Linked DNA regions of Homo sapiens. The protein of the gene in region 1 purifies or fractionates together with the protein of each later gene. This does not show direct contact. Each region holds a gene or a part of one and is shown in the gene's direction. Other genes may lie near its edges.

Region 1 (5,084 bases):
AGGGGACTCTCTTCTCCCCGCTTGTCTCTGGCCCCTGCAGAGGCTTGGAAGGCCAAAAAGAAGCAGGGTAAGGAGGGGGAGAATAGACATAGACTGAGCTGGTGGTAGGCGGGCCCAGGAATGGGAATGTGATGGGAACAAGGCCTCAAAGCCTGGAGGGGCGTGCAACCTCCACACCCTCCTTCCATTCTCCTCTCCAGGTGGACACAAGACCTCTTTCTCCTACCACCAGAGCACTCAGCTAGGGGTGCAATAGCCTCAGCTTTTTGCACTGTGCTCTTGTTTCAGTTTGGCTACACCAGCAGTGAGCCCTAATTCTGCACTCAATTCAACTCAGCAAACGTTTAATAAGCACCACTGCATGCCAAACATGGGGAACACAAGAGACGTCAGACACAGCCCCTGACTTCTAAGGGCTCAGGGCCTGTCTAACGAAAGTGTTGACTAGCAAACAAGTAATGCTAGAGCCTGGGGGAATGTGACCAGTGCTGGCACAAAGCCTCAGGCTCCCACGAGCTCATCTCCTGGTGTACTATGTACAGGTGTGCTTGGGCACCGACTCCCAACTCACTTCTCAGAGAGGAATGGGTATTTCCTTTCTGGACAGGTTTATCTCCTGACTCCCAGCTGCATTCTTAGACTTTTCAGAGAAAAATAATTATAGCCTCCATTTTTTATCAATTGCTATATACTAGGTGCTTTACTTATGTTTGTTATTTCATTTAATCCTCACAATAGATTGGCTAGCTACTATTTCTCTAATTTTACAGACAGGAAGAGGGTCAGAATGATTGAGTTACTGGTTCAAAATTCTGCAAGTAATTAGCTGCAGGACTCAAATCTGAAGGCAGGATAGTCTGCCTCTGAAGTGATTCTGAGTCTCTCTGGAGCTCCCTCAGGAAATCCTATTCTCTCTTTGAGTATTTTTTCCTATTTCTGGCCTGCAGAACATTGGCCTGCAATCTACCTGCTGTCTTCTTGAGTCTTCTGTACTAATTAGTAAGACCTAACAAATGTTCTACAGCCAAGTCTTTTTTTTAAGTGGATTTAATCCAACTTTTAATAAGACAAAGATGGATTAAGATAATTAACAGCTTGTTCAATATCCAGAATTTTATGACTGTAAATATCAGCGAAGCTGGCATTCTTACCAGCTTTGCCTCAGAGCTATTGCATTATAAATCCTTGGTGGTAACGAAACACCAGCTAAAAAAAAGGTGGAATAGTCTCATTTAAAAAACAGCCTTCCCAGGGAGAACTACACCAACTTTAATGGAATGGATAGCCCCTCTTAGAACAGTAATGCTACTGGAAAGAGGTGAGTGGTTTTCTACAGCCAGTTCTTAAGAAGGGTTCCAATTCTGAGATGAGGCTTCCTAGCCTGTGGTTTAGGTCCTTACTTCACTCCCTGTTTCTCCTCGCTCCAGCCCCATCTCACCACTGCCCCCAGGATAGGTCAACTGCAGCGACTCCTTGGCTGGTAGACACTAGATATTCTACCTCTACCTCCCAGGACCTCAGCAGCAACAAGATCATGCTATGGTCTTCTCCAGACCCATGGAGTTGATTCTACTGCTGTTTCTTCCTCTTCTAAAACTGGCAGGCTCTCCCAGTACCACCCACTCCCCTTGACCTGCTTGTTCCTTTTTCTTATTATTTGGCCTTAGTTGGGGTTTCTTCTCCAGTGCTGATATCCTCACAATTACAGTCTCCTGTCTCTCATCCATCATAGCAGGTTCTTAGTTCTGCTCAGTTTGCCAGATATATGCACTGAATATCCTCATTCATTCATTATTTTATTCAAACAAATATTTATTGCAATTTGACCAATGAGTTTCAACCTTTCACCTTGATAACATTTTTCTTGTCCAGTTTATTCAATTAGAATTGAAACTAAAGTCCAAGTAACTCCAAGCAACATAGGAGGAGGGCTTTTGTTACCAGAGTCCCTTAGAGGAAGTGAAACAGGCTAGGATAAAAGTGGCCTTTTCCAGGCCTGGCTGTTTTCTTTCCCTTTCCACTCAAACCAGCCAACCAACTTGTGCTCATATTTCTGAGCTTAGTCAAGAAGCCAGGCACCAGACAAGACATAGCTGATGATAGCAGAGTTGGTGCACCAACCCTGAAGTTGGCTCCCCAGATTACCTGGGTCATATGAAAGCTATAGAAAATCAATAAAAACCAAACAGCCAAAGTACCAAAGGAAACTTTGACGGAGGGAGTCTAGTCATTGATGAGTTTTCATCCTAAAGGATCAGAAGGTCTGGCCACTAGTACATAAATGGGGTCTTGGTCAATGCCAAAGCCTGGCTCACTTCCCTTCTCTGAAGCTGCCCGTAGTGGCCCCCAGATCTCTGATATGTGACTGACTAGATAGCTCTACCCTGAAGGTCCTGCCTGGTCCCTGGTCCACCAAGAGGGGAAACTCTTTCCTAGCTGGGCTTCTGGTCATGGGACACTAATCTAAAGGCTGTTTCTTTTCTCCTTTGTCTGATGTTCTTCAGGTTCCTGCTCCTGGAAAAATCTCTCTCCTGTATTACCCTATTCCTCTCTGGCTTAAACTTAGATCCCTTTTGCATTCTGGTCTGACCAAGAAGCATGCTCACAGGTCATTGCACATAGTTAGGGCTGTCTCTTTAGTTTCCAGCTTCTCTGTTGTGAAAGTTCACTCAGAGCCCTGTCTCTCCACTGCCCATGTGGGCCAGATGACAGCTTCCATCTTCTAGGTGACTCTTCTCACTGTGTGTTTATATCCACATTTCTGATATCACCCATGCATTCACTCTTTCATTCAACAAAAAGTATGGGCAGGGCATTGCGTCCCTGGGATAGACCAATACCTTTTCCCACTCTGAAGTTCCTCTTCCTATTAGCTGACTGTCTCCTGTCACAGCCAACATTGTGTGTCGATCCCTGTTTTTGTCCTACCCACTCAGCTCAACCTGACAGTCTACCCCATCTTTCAAGTGAGAGACAGTCGAGTTTCCCAGAGCAGGGCTATCCAGAGCCATGTGAGATATTTGCAATGTGAGAAATGGAAATTAATAGATTCTGTCCAAGAAAAGAAGGAGTATTTTTCTTACTGAGCCAAAATTCATGAGAGTAGCAATGTGAGGGTATAGAGATCAGGAAGATTGGAATGAATACAGTCAAGGAAAAGAAAGTTGTTTTTTAAAGCATCTATCAAGGCCAAGAACTTGTGCAATCTGTTTTTACTTAATTGTCAAGACCATCATTCGAAGTGGTTGTTTACACATGAAACTGAGACTCAGAAAGGTACATGGACTGCCCTGAAGTCACACAGCTGAGCTGGGCAGGTCTTTTGACCCCAAGCCTAGTGCTCCTTCTACCCTATCACAGCTGCTGGATGAAGATGGGGGTGTGGAGGGGATTCAGGGGGTTCCCCCTCTTTTCTCTGGGTTCAGGGTCGTGCAGGCTGAATTGAATAAGGCTGAAGATAGAGCCAGCAGCTGGGGTCTGAAAAGTCCATCCTGGGCCCCACAACCACCAACCCTTTCTTTGCAGAGCTGCAGCATGCCAACAGTTCCCCACTGCTCCGGGGCAGCCACTCCTTGGAGCTCCGGGCCTGTGAGTTAGGAAATAGAGGTTCCAAGAACCTTTCCCAAAGCCCAGGTGAGAGGGGGTCCCTGAAAGGGAAGTGAAGGGGTGAGATAGGGTGTAGGGATGCAGGGGCTTACCAGCCCAGGGCCCTCCCACGGGCTCATCCTCCTTTCCCTGAGGAGGCTGATGAGGGTTGGATGGAGTAGTGGACAGGTAGCTAAGGGGGCTGGTGGGCAGGCCGGCAGGCTGAGCTCCAGAGCAGATGGGGATGCCACTGTTCTCACACCCAGGCTTCTCTTCCCCAGGAGCTGTGCCCCAAGCTCTGGTTGCCTGGCGGGCCCTGGGACCGAAACTCCTCAGCTCCTCAAATGAGCTGGTTACTCGTCATCTCCCTCCAGCACCCCTCTTTCCTCATGAAACTCCCCCAACTCAGAGTCAACAGACCCAGTAAGAGGGCATGGGGTCGGGAAGCAGGGCTGGGAGAGTGGGGGTGTGGGGAGTGTGTGCCGGGATTGGACAGGCTGGGGAAGGGGGGAAAGGACTTGAAGAGCTGTAGTAACTACGGTGCCATCACTCTCTCCCGCAAATCAGGCCTCCGGTGGCACCACAGGCTCCCTCCTCCATCCTGCTGCCAGCAGCCCCCATCCCCATCCTTAGCCCCTGCAGTCCCCCTAGCCCCCAGGCCTCTTCCCTCTCTGGCCCCAGCCCAGCTTCCAGTCGCCTGTCCAGCTCCTCACTGTCATCCCTGGGGGAGGATCAAGACAGCGTGCTGACCCCTGAGGAGGTAGCCCTGTGCTTGGAACTCAGTGAGGGTGAGGAGACTCCCAGGTGAGTAGCTTGAGAGATAACCAAAGAACTACAGAAAAGCTGTGGGGGCAAGCGCCTCTCCACCCATTCCGCCCTCCCTCAACTGGGGCTTTTCTGTTACTACAACCCTCATTCCACCCAAACCATTGCTGTCTCCCCTTTTGCCTCTCCCTAGGAACAGCGTCTCTCCCATGCCAAGGGCTCCTTCACCCCCCACCACCTATGGGTACATCAGCGTCCCAACAGCCTCAGAGTTCACGGACATGGGCAGGACTGGAGGAGGGGTGGGGCCCAAGGGGGGAGTCTTGCTGTGCCCACCTCGGCCCTGCCTCACCCCCACCCCCAGCGAGGGCTCCTTAGCCAATGGTTGGGGCTCAGCCTCTGAGGACAATGCCGCCAGCGCCAGAGCCAGCCTTGTCAGCTCCTCCGATGGCTCCTTCCTCGCTGATGCTCACTTTGCCCGGGCCCTGGCAGTGGCTGTGGATAGCTTTGGTTTCGGTCTAGAGCCCAGGGAGGCAGACTGCGTCTTCATAGGTATGTGAGGTCTCCCCATCTTACTCCTCACTCATGCCCCTTGCCTTTCTAACAACTGTTATCATGTCATCATTGTTAAAACAACTAGTTTTATTGAATGATTATTGTATCTCAGGCACTATGATAAGTGCTTTGCATACATTTAATATTGAAAGTCTATGTGGAATATTCTTTATCTCTCT
Region 2 (4,292 bases), on another chromosome or scaffold:
TAGATTTCTGCACCTCTCCTGTTCCTACAGGATCAGAACCTCAGAAGGAGGGGAGAGAGGAGCCTGTAAAGCTGCCTTTGAGCATGCACTGCTGTTGGTTCTTATGTATGACAAACTTAGGACAACTTCTCTGGTCCATATGCTCATGGTGTATAGATGACAATACTAAGCCCCAGAGAGAAGAAATAACTGCTCCAAGTGCACGCAGAACCAGAAATCCTTACCGTATAACCTAGTGGTTTCGTACACCTAGCTGTCTGACTGATGCCTGCTTTGAATGCCAATGGATGAGTCATTTCCTATGAATGGGAAAGGAGAAGGTGGCATAAGTTCAGACCCAGAGTGTGCTACAGTTCTTGGTCTTTAGAACCAACAGACCCCCTGAAGAGTGAGAAACTGGGTCTTCCTCAGCCTAGAACTTCCAGCCAGTAGTCCAGAGTTTAGGCACAGCTAAAGCATAATTACGGGGTTGTGGGGATGTGGTGGTATAGCCAGCACTCTGAAAGCTTCCAGCACCCTCCCCCCTTCCCTGGATGGGTGCCTTCTGCAGGATGCCTTCCACGGACTAAGGGTCTGGCTTAGGCCATGGAAAGATTCTTCCGTTTTGCCAAAATGAGTGTTACCAGATAACTGTCACTAGTGGAATGTATATATACAAAGATTGCAAATACTCTGTTTTTGAAGGGATTTCATTTTTATTTCTGATTTCTTGGACTATGAAGTCTTCACTCTTAATTAGCAAGAAAGAAAAAATGATGTGAATGAGGTGCTGTCCTGAAAAGAATCAGGAGTGAGTTTTTAGGCATTGACATCATTGACCAAGCTTAGGGACGTTGCCAGGAGTGAGCTGAATTAGTTGCTAACTTCGAATGTGGGAGGGCTGGGGTGAATGGTCACTGTGAACCCCAGCTGTCAGCCCCTGAAACCTGGTGGACCTAACCCTGACTCCAGAGATAGAGGAGTTCTTCTCATCAGCCTAACTCTAACCTGAACTCACTGGGTCACCTTGAGCATGTCACCAGGGCTTTCTGAGCCCTAGCCCCTTGTCTTTAAGATAAGGGGTAGAATTAGAGCACCATAAACTGAGCTTTATGGAGCTCCAGACTTCCAGGAGTGTGTGCCTGGAGGTGGAGGGTGGAGGACAAACAGAGAGGGAACATTCCCTTCCCCCAGTCTTGCCTTTAAGGACAGTAGCTCTGCCTCTAGGTTTTATATATTTGTGTACATGTAAAGTTTTCTTTGAAGCAAATTTTAAAGATTAACCACCAATCAACTAGGTATTTTATTCTAGTTGTGGATTAGAATTTCCTGGAGCATCTTCCAATACAGAACAAAACAAAAACACACATCTCTACATCTCTTCTCCACTTCACTTCCCTACCACCCTGCCCAAATATCCTGCCATAATAGGTTGGCAGTGAGGTCCCAAGCATCAGTATTTCTGAGTAGCAAATGGCTCAGAAATCCCCAGAGAGCCTGACCTCTGACCTGGTGTTCCTCCCCAGGCATGCCAGGGAAGAGTAACGTGGCATCTCTGCGCCAGGCCCCTGGGCAGAACGGAACCAGCTTCCACGGCTGCATCCGGAACCTTTACATCAACAGTGAGCTGCAGGACTTCCAGAAGGTGCCGATGCAAACAGGCATTTTGCCTGGCTGTGAGCCATGCCACAAGAAGGTGTGTGCCCATGGCACATGCCAGCCCAGCAGCCAGGCAGGCTTCACCTGCGAGTGCCAGGAAGGATGGATGGGGCCCCTCTGTGACCAACGGACCAATGACCCTTGCCTTGGAAATAAGTAAGTTCCTGCTGCTTGGGAGTTGAGCACACACCTGAAAGCCTCAAAGCCAAACCAAAGGAAGGAAGGAAAGAAGAAGGGGAGGGGACGGGAAGGGAGGGGAGGGGAGGGGAGGTTCGTTAGGCATTAGCACTCTGTCCCTCATATTTTCTCAATCATCCTCCATTCTTATATCACCTCCGTTCATTCTTACCTCCTCTTCTGAATGCATTCCCACTCCTGTGTTCCTCCTCCCTGTAGATGCGTACATGGCACCTGCTTGCCCATCAATGCGTTCTCCTACAGCTGTAAGTGCTTGGAGGGCCATGGAGGTGTCCTCTGTGATGAAGAGGAGGATCTGTTTAACCCATGCCAGGCGATCAAGTGCAAGCATGGGAAGTGCAGGCTTTCAGGTCTGGGGCAGCCCTACTGTGAATGCAGCAGTGGATACACGGGGGACAGCTGTGATCGAGGTAAGCCAGCCCCACTGGGCACCTCATTCTCTTGGCAAAGCAAGAGGGGTCCCATGTCTTTGAAAAGAGAGGGAGAAAAAGTGAAAAAAAAAAAAAAAACAGGAGCAACAGAGACAGAGAGAGGGGAGTGACAGGAGAGAATACTAGGTCTTCTCACTACTTGCAGTTGCTGCTATTGATTTATTTTCAAGTATTTTGAAGGCACCAGCTGTGAAATGACCTTAAACCTCCACCGCAAGATTGTATACAGCCTTCAGATGCTTCTCACAAGTTGATTTGTTGTAAAAGAAATGCTCCTTTTTACCTGATGGAGAAGCACATTTACTTTACTCCTGTCTTACCTTTACCGGCTGTTCTCATCCGTATATATTATTAATTCATCTTCTGGCACAGAGAAGATGGTCCTCTTAATTCTGCTCTAGTTTTAGTACAAAATGACCTTTGGCCTTAGAATCGACTGATTTATCACAGCAAATCATGTGGGTGAGAGGAACGGAAACAGGCTGACTTCTTAGTTCACCTTCCTCCTTCTCCTTTGTCTGCGTGATCAGAGCTCGCCTGGCCTCCAGCTGGCACGGATTTTGTTTTGTGTGTCCAAGGGACGAGACAAGAGGAACGTGCCCATGGAAGCTTTTAGCAGATGTCTCTTTTTTGAACTACATACTTCATACTGGGGTAATTTATGAAGTTAATGGAATGTTACTTGTATTAAGTAACAGATTGGATAATATTAAACTCCAGGTCTAATAAATAAAATGGCATACTCTCTGAAACTGCTCCCTGTGGTAAACAAAACCAGCTGTTAGTAGTGTAAAAACAGAAGATGTGTACTTTTTTTCCTTTTTTGCAATGAAAGAAAATATTTAGGAATCCAATTTTCTTGTCACTGCAATAGCATTGTATTTATACTCTACATAATAGCATTCACTTTGCTGAAAATAGAGACTAAAAAGAAGTATTTTTCAAAGAATAGGAGGCCGTGCCACCAGCTAATAATATGTAAAGCAAGTTACAAAGGGGAAGCAAAGGCTTCTGAATTAAGTTGTGGATTCACAGTCACTCTGCATGACTTACAGTGACTGTTCTTAAAATGCTTGTGCTTTTTGTTCTTTTCTAGAAATCTCTTGTCGAGGGGAAAGGATAAGAGATTATTACCAAAAGCAGCAGGGCTATGCTGCTTGCCAAACAACCAAGAAGGTGTCCCGATTAGAGTGCAGAGGTGGGTGTGCAGGAGGGCAGTGCTGTGGACCGCTGAGGAGCAAGCGGCGGAAATACTCTTTCGAATGCACTGACGGCTCCTCCTTTGTGGACGAGGTTGAGAAAGTGGTGAAGTGCGGCTGTACGAGGTGTGTGTCCTAAACACACTCCCGGCAGCTCTGTCTTTGGAAAAGGTTGTATACTTCTTGACCGTGTGGGACTAATGAATGCTTCATAGTGGAAATATTTGAAATATATTGTAAAATACAGAACAGACTTATTTTTATTATGAGAATAAAGACTTTTTTTCTGCATTTGGAAAAAAAAAAAAAGAAATGCTTGAACTAAAGCTTCCCCTATGCTGGAGAAGTATGAAGAAAGATATACCTGGAGACATTAGAACAGCGATGGGAACCATTGCAACTCGGGTCCATCTTTGTAACATGCTGAAGACAAGCAGAAGCACATGCACGAGGGACAGAGGAGCTACTGTGCACTGCTGTGAAATTGCCCAGAGCATAAAACCTGTGTACCCTCCTTCACATCAACCAAGTTCACTAGGACATACCAAGCACATGCGTGTGAATGAGGATGCAAGGCAAGAGAATGGAACTCCAGAATTCACAGATAGAACAAATGGATGAGAAATATTTCATGCAAAATATAAAGTGTCCTGAGGATCTGGGTTCCATTTACGAGAGGAAATGAAAGTGCTAAAATAAATTTTATCTTCCTTTTAAATGTCAGCATGTCAGCAGAAGCAGCACACAAAAGTCTTTACCATTTTCCAGTATTAATTTTTTTGTAATATAAATGATAAAGGAGATGATAAAGAACCAATAGATTATT

Evidence for each region. The genes of interacting proteins can lie anywhere in the genome.
Region 2: the proteins of ROBO4 (region 1) and SLIT2 purify together in Homo sapiens (affinity purification with western blotting, with the first as the bait; one study listed by BioGRID). This does not show direct contact.

What each region holds. Positions count from the first base shown.
Region 1 is NC_000011.10:124,886,282-124,891,365, reverse strand, and holds part of ROBO4 (roundabout homolog 4 isoform 1 precursor), read left to right. Parts: coding exon 1-67; intron 68-3,525; coding exon 3,526-3,633; intron 3,634-3,866; coding exon 3,867-4,008; intron 4,009-4,152; coding exon 4,153-4,389; intron 4,390-4,543; coding exon 4,544-4,902; intron 4,903-5,084.
Region 2 is NC_000004.12:20,615,405-20,619,696, forward strand, and holds part of SLIT2 (slit homolog 2 protein isoform 1 precursor), read left to right. Parts: intron 1-1,505; coding exon 1,506-1,794; intron 1,795-2,034; coding exon 2,035-2,246; intron 2,247-3,363; coding exon 3,364-3,605; 3' UTR 3,606-4,292. UniProt on the Homo sapiens protein: Thought to act as molecular guidance cue in cellular migration, and function appears to be mediated by interaction with roundabout homolog receptors.